Regions from separate parts of the Homo sapiens genome. Here regions 1 and 2 are each linked to region 3. The links come from fine-mapping of genetic effects on gene expression. Tissue or cell type: whole blood. Region 3 holds a variant in brackets; each other region holds the start of a gene. Each region is shown on its reference strand, or each on the opposite one. Region 1 holds the start of MMADHC (metabolism of cobalamin associated D). Region 2 holds the start of BMX (BMX non-receptor tyrosine kinase). Region 3 overlaps MNDA (myeloid cell nuclear differentiation antigen).

Region 1 (4,246 bases), not on the chromosome of region 3:
CACATAACCAAATGGCATTAGTTAGCAACAAATCACTGTAGCTAAGGAAAGGTTGCTCCCCTTTGTTCAGAAAGGCTTTGTCACAGTCCCCATGAAGGCTTCTTAATGTACCTGTCTAGACTCTGAAACATGAACATTCTTGCCCCTTGTTATGAAACACTATCTGCATATTTCATTAGTAACATCCATCCACAATTTACAATCCATATAAATTAACACAAAAATTGTTATCGTACATTTGGATACTGAAACTTAAATTTATTTTAATATGAACTTCTTTCTAACAAAAGACTTATAAAAGGATCTTCCCTACTGAACTATTATAATTTATTCATTTAAACCAAAATAAAACCAGGTCAAATAATAGCATTCTATTCTACTTCAATTAATTTCTCTCCTTTGAAAGTACCACATACTTCTTTTACAGCATTCTCTTTCTGTGCAGGTTATGGGCAGGCAAAAATTCACCATAGAACTTGGCCAAGACTAGTAATCTATTCTTATGACTTGTCTCTATAGTCACACTTTAGACTTAATATACCATGTTCAATTACAGAAATAGCATCCTGGCTAAATGCTGCCATATAAATCTTCCTAGCACACAGCTCTAAGTGAATAATCACAATTTAAAGAATGAAGTCTAAATTACTGAGTTCGGCATTCAAGGCTCTCATTTACTTGGTACCAACCTCACAATTCAACCTTATCTCCCACTTATCTCTTTCATGCAGCTTACATTCAGGTTGGCAGGCAGCAGTCACTTTTCAGTTTTTCAAAGGGGTAGGCGGGTTGGGGAGTTCTTTGAATATACCTTCCTGTCCTTCCCGCTCATATTTTAGACTATACAAATCCCACCTATCTTTCAAACCTCAAGTTAAATGTTTCCCTCATGAAGTGATCCCAAACTCCTCTCCACAAAGACTTGAATCTGCATTGCACCTTCGTGTAGGTTCTAAAAAAAATTATTACTTTATACTTTAATTGTAGCTGTTTTTATATATGTCTTATGACCGCTACATATGAATTCTATAGATAGGATGTGTCTAATCACTGCAAAGTTACAGTCAATAAATATCTCTGGTGTGTGAGAGTATCTCCTATTCTTATTTTGTAGGATTTAGAAGGTCACTTCCAATATGGAAACTGTTTTAAAAAAAAGAAAAAAAGATTAAAAAAACCCTTCAGTTTAGCTAACCCAAAAGCTAAAAAAGGGCCTAAACATAGATTCTAATATTTACTGAAACGCTGTATTTAAAAAATACCGAAAGGGTGCTTGAATTTCCACATCTGTACAAATGAAATTGTATAAATAAGTGTATTTGCAGTGCAAAGAATGCTACCATCTTCAAAGCATAACATAATTTCACACCACTTGCTTCCCTTGACATTTTTGATACATTATATCTAACACTATACCACCCAATGCCATCATAATTAAACCCGTTCTTTCATTCCTAACATTCCCAAACGAGTTTACTATGCTGATTCTTAAGAGATAATTTACTCACATTGGCCATCTCCGCTGGAGAAGATAGTTCGCAAAATAGCTTTCCTTTGGTAAAGTTATTTCTGGGAAAGAACACAACAAAACAGACGAGTGATCGATTAAACTCTAACAACAGACAACTGAGGTAACGTCCACTCTTCGAAGGTGTGTCGTCCACCACGTCAGGACCAAAGTCCAAGCTCTCCCCGTACCCTAAGGAGGCCAGAACTCGCCCCCATGCCAGGCACAGATCCCCCAGCCCGGAGCCGGCAGTGCAGCTCAGAGCCCTTCCGGTTTACAGCCGCGGAAAAACAACTCGGACCAGATCCGGGAGGGGAATGGGGGCTGGGTGGCCAAAATTCAGTCCAGAGGATCGAAGCGGCTGCTTTAACAGAAGTTGGGGCTGCGTAACAACAGCTCCAAGCAAAGCTTCAGGCTGATCGGAAAGATGAGGAAGCAGAAAAGAGACTAAAGACAGACGGACAGGATGGCTGGGGACAACGACAGGGACCCAGTGAAAATACGGGCAATACCGAGGGCTGTAACCCTAACACGGGCAAATTTGGAGGGGCTAACATGGGCGGAAACCATCCGTACCAGTCACCACCACTGTCTCCAGCTGTCCCAGAACCGGACTCTTCCTGCCATCAAAATGGCGGCGGCGACGGCAGCGGTGGTAGCACCTACGCTGGCGGTGAGCAGGCAAAGGAAGTTGCTTCCGAGCGCGTCGAAACGATGATGCGCACGCGCAAAGTAGGCCTACGTGGAGCCGACCTGCCATTGGGTAAACGCAAGGGAGGAGAAAAGGTGGGGCAGGGGTGATTTGGGTGGATGGATAGGAGGGCTTCCGACCTGCGTTAGGCGGGTCAGTTAATCTTCAGTAACTCCTTGATGCGTTTGATAGTCCTCCCAACTTAAGCCTTCCTTACTGCCTCCAGGAGATACAGTCTTCTGTTCTTTTTGTCATAGTTGTTTATTTTTCATGAATCGCTGTTTTTGAGCATAGGGCACTTACCTCTTTCTGTGTCCCCAGCCCTACCACAGTGCCAGGCTCTCAATATGCTCGATAAATATTAGGCGATTGATTTGTAAATCGTGTATCATTTTCATGTATCTAATACTTTTTTAAAAATTGATTAAAGCCCATAAGCCCATATTTTATTCCAGATGTCCTTAGTTTTCGACCTGGTATTCTTTTCCATTCCAGGATCCTGTCCGGAGTACATCACCATGTCTTCCAGGCTCCTCTGGACCGTGACCGTTTCTCAAACTTTCCTTGTTTTTGATAACCTTAATAGTTTTGAAGCGACTTATTGGTCATTTGGTCAAATGTCCTTCAATTGGGTTTTGCCTGTATTTTTCTCATGCATTAACTGAGGTTATGGGTTTTTCTTGAGTTAAGAGGTAAGGTAAAGTGATCTTCTCATCACATCACATCAAGGGTATATACTATCAACATGACTTATTACTGTTGATGCTAACCTTTATCACCATTATTACAGTGTCATACAGAAAAGTTTTATAGTTCTACAAAGATCCCCTTTGTTTCATCTAGTAAGCCCTTCCACCTCCCTATGTAGGGTTTGTCAGGTTTCTCCACTGTGAAGTTACTGTTTTTCTTTTCCTCTCCATACTATACTATTTGGAAGGACATCTCTCTGTGCAGCCCAAACTATAGGAATGGGAAATTGTTATACTCCACCTTTATGAGGACAGAATATCTTCATGAATTATTTGGAATTCTTCTGCATGGGAGATTTGTCTGTACTGCATTTATTTATGTATTCAATCATTTATGTCAGTATGGACTCATGGATATTTATTTTACATTTTGGGTTATAATCCAATACTACTTTATTTTGTTGTTCATATTGGTTCCAGCTTTGGCTATTGAGATTTCCTTTAGTTGGCATTTGTGTCTTTTTGACAAACCCTCCTCGTTTTATGTTTATTGATTTTTTTTCTTGAGCATTTTCTTAATTTCTATAAGTTGCTCCAGGCTCATCTTGTATATTCCCTGCCCCAATCCTAGAATCAGCTGCTTCCCCAAAAAGCCAAGGGTACTTTTAATGGAAAATGATATTAGAAATCAAGATTTGGACATTTGGGATGTTGTTGCTTCTAGACACTCTCAGCTGACAGAGCAAGGAAATATTTGTGGATATGCTAACCTGACTAAATACGCATATCTGTAAGTATTTATATATGTATCCATCTGTATCTTTGACAGCTACACAGGCGTTCTAGGTTCAAATACTAGAGCTGTTATCTTCAGTTCAATTCCAGCACCATATGGATCATTGCAGCCTTCTCCCCTTGCTTGTCTGTAGCCTTCCACTCCAGTGTGAGACACCTGGCTCTCATCATCTGCCATCCATTTACCTAATTGTTCAATTCCAGGTTACGTGTATAATGGATTCAGAACCGTCAACCCGTATTCAGAGTACATGTATAGTTGTTTCTGAACTGTTATCAGGTATACCTGTGAGAAACAGATTTACCAATTAGAGTACAATGCTTATGTATAGTTCTTTTGCTTTTAATCTTATAGATTCCACTTATTTTCAAAGTTACTGAAGTCAGCAGCCCTCCCTCCTACCTCTACCCGGCCTCAGTGAAGTTATTTTATATGCTCGTAATACAGTTGTAATCTTTTGCCACAATCTGCATTACTCCTGGGATTCTTTGAGTTCCTAAGATTTTTTAAAAAATCTTCCTCCGTTTAGGTTCTGTTTGTGCAATCCTCATAATGCACATTTA
Region 2 (4,246 bases), not on the chromosome of region 3:
ATATCAGATATCCCAAGTACAGATGGACAAGTTGACAGTCAAACATAAGTTTGGAATTCAGGGAAGAGGTCCTGGCTGTCATAAGCATATAGATGGTGTTTAAAGCCATGAGTCAAGTGAATTTTCTAAAGTGAGAGAAAAATACAGGTCAGCCACAAGCCAGAAGGACTCTGATTATCTCATTTTCTTTCTTCCTCTCTCTCTCTCTCTCTCTCTCTCTCTCTCTCTCTCTCTCCCTCTCTCTCTCTCTCTCTCCTTCCCCCTTTCTCTCTCTCTCTCTCTGACAATGGATTCTACCAGGTTCTTTTTTATTTTAAAAATGTAAGCACAAGTAAACAGGCTTGTTCACATCATGAAGTCAAATTATCCCATGCCATGTCCCTTTAGCTGTGGCCTGCTAAAGGCTTGCATGAACAAGCTTAGGAGAAAATTCCTAAAATTCTAACTGAGTAAAGATGACAATGCAGAGTATAATTTGAGTAAATGAAGTCATATTATCGTAATAGCAGATTGCCAAAAGTTAGGATGTAACTAAACTCATGGAAAATACAGAGCCAAAGAAACAGGAGAAGTAGCAGAGGAAGTGAATGAATAGAATAAAGTAAATAAATCTGTGACATTTTGCCTTAGAGGAAACCACTCCTCCCAGCTGTCCTTGGGTGTTTTATGCCCCCAAGAAGGGATGGAAATCCCAAGAGATTGTGCCCAGGTGTTTCCACAGTTATACCGACTGTATTAGTCCATTTTCATACTGCTATGAAGAAATACTCAAGACTGGGTAATTTATAAAGGAAAAGAGGTTTAATGGACTCACAGTTCCATATGACTGGGGAGGCCTCACAATCATGGTGGAAGGTGAAAGAGGAACAAAGGCATGTCTTACCTGGTGGCAAGCAAGAGTGCGTGTGCAGGGGAACTGCCCTTTATAAAACCATCAGATCTGGTGAGACTTATTCACTGTCATGAGGACAGCACGGTAAAAACATCCACTCCCGTGATTCAATTACCTCCCACTAGGTCCCTCCCACAACATGTGGGGATTATGGGAACTACAATTCAAGATGAGATTTGGGTGAGGACACAGCCAAACCATATCACCAACTCCTCCTTCCCCTACCCTAAGTTTACTTTTTATTCTAGAATCGAACTTTTGCCATATTACCATATATAAGTTGTGAAGTAAATACAAATCGCCATGTGGAAAAGGAAATTAACTAGCAGAGTGTAGAATTAATTTATTTAGCCAGGTTGTTGTGCCACTCTTGCCCTGCTTCACCCTTAATTTTTTGAATGACTACCTACTATATTCCTAAAGAATGGAGAGCTATTTGGAATCCATCAGTGACTTTAATTTGCTATTAGAATGTAAGTTACACTCTTTTGAATTCTTCTGAAGGACTCCTTTCCCTTCCCAAAATTCTAGTTTCCAAACTGAAATATTAAAAAATATTTCTGCAAGTTATTTTTCCCATACTCTACTGTAATTAAACCACTATTTGTGGTTCCCCCCCCCCCCACACAGACACATAAGCCCCTTGAAGATGTGGGCTGCCTCTCTTCTGTTTGCTCTTGTGTCTCCAACCCCTAACGGAATGCTCAGCACATGGCAGGTTCTCAAATAAGACTTGACTGAACGAATTAATAGAAATGATGCTAATTCCATGTACACTCAAAAGAATACCTCTTTGAAAGCCAGTAGCTTCACTCTCTTCTGCCAACCCAAGACTTCTTCACATCATAGATACTTACAAATAAGTTACAGTAAGCAACAATTTATAAGTAAACACAGTGTGTCAATGCATGCCAAAAGGATGATTACTTTTCTTGGCTATCCATAGCAGGACATAAAATATGTCCTTAGATTTATTACAGATGGCCAGCCGGTATGCACCAGAGAAAATAGTGGAATGGGGGAAGCCAAAAGTTGTGAGTCTGTCATAATGATGTCAAGTGACACACTTTTTCATTGCGATCTAGGTGTACCATACCTTAGCAAAAACAATCTATTTTCCATTTCTGGATTTCTTAATAACTTAAACTATATAAATAAGCTCCTTTTCCATCATATGAACTGTTCTTACATATTCTCTGGCCTTCCTTTGTCCAAATGTTGAGTTGAAGTTTTCATTGCATATTCTCTGTGCACTTTGCATTACCTAATGGTTTCCTGGCTCATGTGAGAGAAGTCAGCGTCAGCAGTCGGGTTTTGCCGAGATATTTTCTTGTCCTTTCCAGCATAGAGCTCTACAAACAAAGGCAGGGTTATCACATGTACCCGAGAGCTGCCTGGGAAAAGTGGGAGCTATAGTTATCAAAATTGGAAACTTTATGAAGTATGCTTTTGTCTCCGTTTTTGTTGCGTTCAATCAGATCAACAAGTGTTGGCTAAGTGTTGAGCGTGGTTTCCTGTGGGATTGTGTAAGGCTCTGTAGGACAATAAACGTGTTGGGGGCACTGAGTAATGTAGCCATTTCTGACCCGGCAGCCAGGAAAATGTGAAACAATTTGCTTCTGGAAACAGGACAGCCGGGGCCGTGTTCCTGCAACAGCAGACCAAGCACCGCGGCGGACCCAGGCAAGCACGGAACAAGCTGAGACGGTGCGTTTAAGCGGCAGGTGGCTACTCAGTGTCGCATACTATGCGGAAAATAGGTTTGGTTCCCGGTGTTGTGGGGCCTGAAGTTACAAACTTTGGGAAGCTCACTTTAAGAAAAATAGTACAACATTTTTAATATGAAATTGCCAGGGCTTTCTCTGGGACTTTAGATGGGACCAGGTAATTTGGAGGCCAACGGCTGAAACTGCTATAATTTCACTGTAAATTCACTCCTTGCTCAAAATCTCAGTTAGGGAAGCTCTCAGGTTGTTTATGTATCACCACCAGTTCTACCTAGCTTTGTGTGTATTCTCTGCTAATTTTCTCCATCCGCTTCTTTAGGTATTGCCTTTCCATAGCCTTTCATATTGGCCTCATAACTGCTTCCAAAGAGACATAGAAATGTTCCTTATACCTTCTTTAACTGTGTTTTTATGATGTTACTTTAGCTACAAATATTTGCTCTTAGGTTCCTGAGGTCTCCCTAAATCAAGTGCTTTGTGTATTTTAGATGGAGATAGACAGGTGGGAGGGAGGTGAACCATGCAGTTGTACTCATATCCATATAATTTTGAAAGATTTTGTGGGCCACAATGATTTCATTGGATTTGAAAAGGAGTGCAACTTTGTGGTCCATGTAAGTGCTTCTCAAGCTTTCCTGTGCACGTGGATCACCTGGGGATCTTGCTAAAATGAAGATTTGGCTGCGCGAGGTCTCGGGTGGGAACTGAGAGTCTGCATGTCTAATGATCGCCCGGATGATGCAAGTGCACGGACCACACTTTGAGTCACATCCAAGTATTTATTTGTAGGAAATATGGTGGCACAAATACACAGTCAATAAGGGTATGGTTCAACCTCATTTTATGGTAACTCGTCTCAGGATGGAAAGTCTGCGACAAACCTACTATGTATGGACTGGTGTTTGTTGACATGGCAATACATGAGGAGGTCTTCCTGCCTCCCATTTTCTCCTATACCCAGGAGCTGGGGACAGAGGGATGAGAAGTAAAATTTTATCATTAAGGATCATTATTATTTCACTGTCTTTAGTTTTTTAACTTTTTATGGTCCTTTTTAAAACTTTGCCTATGGAGTGATCAGAAGGGACATAAGCTTTTAGAATATCTACTAGGGTGTTGGGCATTAGGCTGCCATTTTCTCTTGACTACTTGTAACCCTTCGAAGTGGTTATTGTTTCACTGCCTTTACAGATGGGGAAGCTGAGGTTTAGCTGGGTTAAGTAACATGACAGATTCCATAGAGACAGAGCAGGGATTCGAACCCAGCTCGGTGCTTTCACTTGCACTAACCGGCATCATGAAAGCAGTGTTACATGTTTAATTCAGCATGAGATGCTAGCTCATGGATTTATTACTTTTTGCTTTTCTCCTAAGGAAGTTGCCCAGAGAGAGTGCCCTAAGCAGAGGAGAGGGAGCAGAAAGAAAGAGGTTACTGAAAAGAAGAAAAGACTTAGAAAAGCTCTATGGGGCACTGAAGATTAATCTCACACCTAAAGCAAAACTTAGCTCCAAAAAGACTAGCATTAAGATTCTTGCCTTCTTTGTGAGAAAATGATCTTCCCAAAGTGTCTGGTTTTTATACACTTATTTTGGATCAATTAAGGTATGATGCTCCAAGATGCTGAGA
Region 3 (4,246 bases):
GTAGATATAGTGGTAATGAAATCCTTCAGCTTATGTTTATCTGGGAATGTCTTAATTTCTCTCATTTATGAATAGCAGGTTTCCCAGATATAGCATTTTTGATGGACAGACTTTTCTTTAAACACTTGAAATGTATTGTCCCACTACCTTCTGGTCTACAAAGTATTTGCTGAAAAATGTGCTCATAATCCTATTGAAGATTTCTTGGATATAATGAGTTGCCTTTTTCTTGCGCTTTTTAAATGATTTTCTTTTCGTCTTTGAGTGTTGGTAATTTGATAATAATGTGTCATAGTGTAAGTTTCTTTGAGTTTATCATAGTTGCAGCTTGTTTGGTTTCTTATATCTGTACATTTAGTCTTTTCTCAAATTTGGAAAGTTTTCAGTCCTTATTTACTCAATAATTTTGTTATTCCTTTCTCTTTTCCATCACCTTTTCAGACTTACATAATGCATATATTGTCCCACTTGATGAACTTTATAAGTTCTGTTCACTTTCCTTTATATCTTTTAAAAAAGTTTGTTCTTCAGCCTTGATAATTACACATGACCTGTCTAAAAGCTAACTGATTCTTCTGCCTATTGGTGTGGGCTGAGGAACCCCTCTAGTGGATTTTACAATGCAGTCAATGTGTTTTTCAGCTTCAGAATTTATGGAATTTTTTCTGGTAATTTCTATTTTTTGTCTATTCTCATTTTTTATTAATCATTTTCCTGATTTTATTTAGTTGTCTCTACCTATTTTCCTTTAACTCATTTATCATATTTAAGAGTGCTGTTTTAGTCTTTGACAAGAAAGTCTGAGGGCTGTGTTTCTTTAGAGAAAGTTTGTGGAGATTCATTTTTTTCTTTAAAATTGACCATGTTTACCTGTTTCTTTGTATACCTTTTGTTGAAAACTGGACATTTGTAAAAACAGCCCCCTCTCAACCATTGTTAACTGGCACCATATTCAGGGGAGGACTTTCACTCTTCAGCTAAGTATGAAATATAAACGTTCTCTGAGGCCTATATGGACGTGTGTCTTGCCTGGGCTTATGTGTGTGCATTTTTTGTAATTCTCTCATATACACACTGCTTTTAATCTGTAATTTCCCTAAGAGCCACACCTGCCTCTTTTCATGACCTTAGATGTTCTACTGTATTCCTCTATCCATAATCTCTTGCCTTCTGGCACCCAGGGAGTAGCAGATCCCATGAAGCTCTCACAAGCTGGAGCACCCACCACTACTTTTTGCAGCCTCAAATCTGACATTTAAACTATGCCACCATTTCCATCAATGCTCCAAGTCATGTGAAGCAGTTACTAGTCCCTCAAGGAACCTACAGAGAAGCTATAATGTTGCAAAGCAGTTCCACACTTTTCCTTCTATTCCAAAGGAAGAATGAGGAATTAGGAAGTTTCCTCCTGATCACGTCACACCATTCAAGGGAGAAAGTTAAACAGGGACAAAGAAAAACACCTAGAAGTTTTCCACTATTTTGAATGTGGCTTAATCTTGGTTTGGAATTTCCTTTGTTGCAACCAATTCTTAACAGCTGAAAACATTAGTTTGGTTCATAAATTGTTCTTTATTTGGTGTTTCCATGGTATAATGAAAGTCTGGAACGTCCTTGTCTGCAATCTTGCTAATGTCACTCTCAGTGAGAAGAGAACAATTTTTTAAACCATAACATTCAAATAACATTTTGACCAGATACAAAATTTTAGTTTGAAAAATATTTTTGCTTGAAAACTGATTCACAGCACTTCACCTGAAACCCCTGGGACAACTCTGATTTTTAATTCATTTTTTTAGGGGGGGATTTTAGAAAGACTACTTAATGCATACATTGTATGTAGGCACTGCAAGTGTCCCAGTAGAGGTAATATCAACATCCTAATATCAAATGCATTAAGAGTTCTTCAACAAATCATGCCACTATTCACATTAAAGTGAGATGAATAAGGAAGATTAAAAATAGCCACTGTATTAGTTCCTTCTCACGCTGCTATGAAGAAATACCTGAGACTGGGTAATTTATAAAGAAAAGAGATTTGATTTACTCACAGTTCCGCACGGCTGGGGAGTCCTAAGGAAACTTACAATCATGATGGAAGGCACCTCTTCACAGGGTGGCAGGAGAGAGAATGAGTGCTAGCAGGGGAAATGCCTGATGTTTATAAAACCATAGATCTCATGAGAACTTGCTCACTATCACAAGATGATATTTCAAGATGAGATTTGGGTTGGGACATAGCCAAACCATATCAGCCA[C/T]GTATTACTTCACATTATATCTCTAATTTGCAAGATGATTTTGCTACCACACTTCCCTGCTAACTCTCATCCCTTCCCAAGCCCCCAAACCGCACAAATCTTTTCATCCTTCAGTATCTTCTTAGGTTTTAAAATTGCAGACATATAATTATGGATCAGTACTATGTAAAAATTACTTTCTTAACCTGCTGCAGACTGTTCAATCAGATTATTTAATCTTTGTAGGTGTTCTACTCAGTATTTCTGGAAGATTTTATCATTTTGCTTTTAATATTCTTTGGCTTTACTATATGTGCCCATGTGTGAAATTTCTCTTTATCTGATAGGTTTAAACACAGGAACACTCATGTTCTCCCAAAAGAGAACAATTTACAGCCCTAAGAATTTGGACACTCTAATTATATAAAAGTTGCACAAACACATGGTCACCAACCTAAAGGAATACCTATAAATTTAAACAGAAAATTGGAATATACGTTAGGAACTGAATGCCCTTAGGTAGTACACAAGGGGTTAAAGAGGCACACATAAGTGAGAGTGGGACCACAACAGCTCGCAGAAGATAAAGCCTCAATTAAGCATTAAAAACTCTAAGGAAGTATTCAGAGGAAGAAAACTGGGAATGCTTTCCCAGATAGCAGGAAGGGAATTAGCAGTAAGAAGACCTGAAAAAGAAAGACATATTGTGTATTTCTAGAGCATAAGGTATAAGAAATTCAAAAGTAACAGACACACACAAAAAGAAAGATACAGTTTATGCAAGGCCTTTCAAGTCATGCTGAGTAGAAATCTATACTAATAAAAATCAAAACTCATTGAAGGATTTCAGGAAAAATAGAGTCATGTCTTTATCCATAAAGAAACCTACTTGGTTGTCTGACAGAAACCTTTTAGTAAAAGTAAGACTAGTTGGAGGTAAATAATTGACTGTAAAAAACAAATGTGCAAAAAATAAATGCTGCAATTCCACACTAGAGAGCAGATAGGAGGATGGCAAAATGACAATTTTATAGATGCATAGGACACAGAGAACAAGTTCTAAGCCCCAGGGAGAAAAAGTGCTAACGAGAGCTGATTAGGGAGAGCCAAGAAGGACTAGAGTCCATTCCACAACTCAGAACTGTAGTGCTGTGGCAGAAGGTTATTCACATAAGGTGAGTGGCTGCAGCCCATTTATACTTAGGCCACTTTGGTCATAGTGGATGACCAGGAAGAATCAGGGAAGAATCAGGGAAGAATCAGGAACCAAGAGGTAGGCATTGAGGGATAGGCTCAGGCCCCAATAAAATATCAGAAGAGGAACCAGGGACTTTGACACCACAAAACCCATACTATAAATACTGCAACAATTACCTGTTTCCAAACATCATTTCACCACATACACCTCTGTCCCAACTTATCAACATTAAAAGGGAAGAACTTCACTGAACCTCCTAATAAAGCAAGTCTTGATCCATTGTTCACAGTGACATATCTGGTAACTTAGTCCCTTTTTCTTATACGCATCCAAGGACAACATTTTGGCCTGGGACACTCACTCACAAAAGCATATCTCATTTTTTAAAATTGTCTGCATAAATGTGTAATGTTGTGTGTCATTTTTACTTTATAGGCCAAGCTATAACATCAGAAATGGTGAATGAATACAAGAAAATTCTTTTGCTGAAAGGATTTGAGCTCATGGATGATTATCATTTTACATCAATTAAGTCCTTACTGGCCTATGATTTAGGACTAACTACAAAAATGCAAGAGGAATACAACAGAATTAAGATTACAGATTTGATGGAAAAAAAGTTCCAAGGCGTTGCCTGTCTAGACAAACTAATAGAACTTGCCAAAGATATGCCATCACTTAAAAACCTTGTTAACAATCTTCGAAAAGAGAAGTCAAAAGGTAATAGAGAAAACCTTGCACATAGCTACTCTGCCTTGAGTCTCCCCAGTCTTCAGTAGAACCCCACCTTGGTCATAGCTGGTACATCCCT

What was found. PIP is the estimated chance that this variant, and not a neighbour inherited with it, causes the effect.
Region 1: MMADHC starts here. The variant in region 3 is fine-mapped to the expression of MMADHC in whole blood (TOPMed, PIP 0.94).
Region 2: it holds the start of BMX, and the variant in region 3 is the best candidate, but not a certain one, in a credible set for the expression of BMX in whole blood (TOPMed, PIP 0.74).

What each region holds. Positions count from the first base shown.
Region 1 is chr2:149,585,581-149,589,826 of GRCh38, forward strand. MMADHC (metabolism of cobalamin associated D) reads right to left here and starts at 2,195. Exons shown (of 8, transcript NM_015702.3): 1 at 2,084-2,195; 2 at 1,509-1,569. The coding sequence starts at 1,517. It overlaps MMADHC-DT (MMADHC divergent transcript), which reads left to right and starts at 1,778. Exons shown (of 3, transcript NR_110240.1): 1 at 1,778-2,270. RefSeq lists enhancers at 1,406-2,605, 1,922-2,241.
Region 2 is chrX:15,498,342-15,502,587 of GRCh38, forward strand. It overlaps BMX (BMX non-receptor tyrosine kinase), which reads left to right and starts at 2,466. Exons shown (of 19, transcript NM_203281.3): 1 at 2,466-2,599.
Region 3 is chr1:158,838,264-158,842,509 of GRCh38, forward strand. It overlaps MNDA (myeloid cell nuclear differentiation antigen), which reads left to right. Exons shown (of 7, transcript NM_002432.3): 2 at 3,871-4,155. The coding sequence starts at 3,891. It also overlaps a transcript of OR6N1 not described here. Among named protein-coding and RNA genes, the nearest start is that of MNDA, 9.0 kb to the left of the region's middle. The variant C/T (reference allele first, on the strand shown) is at 2,259.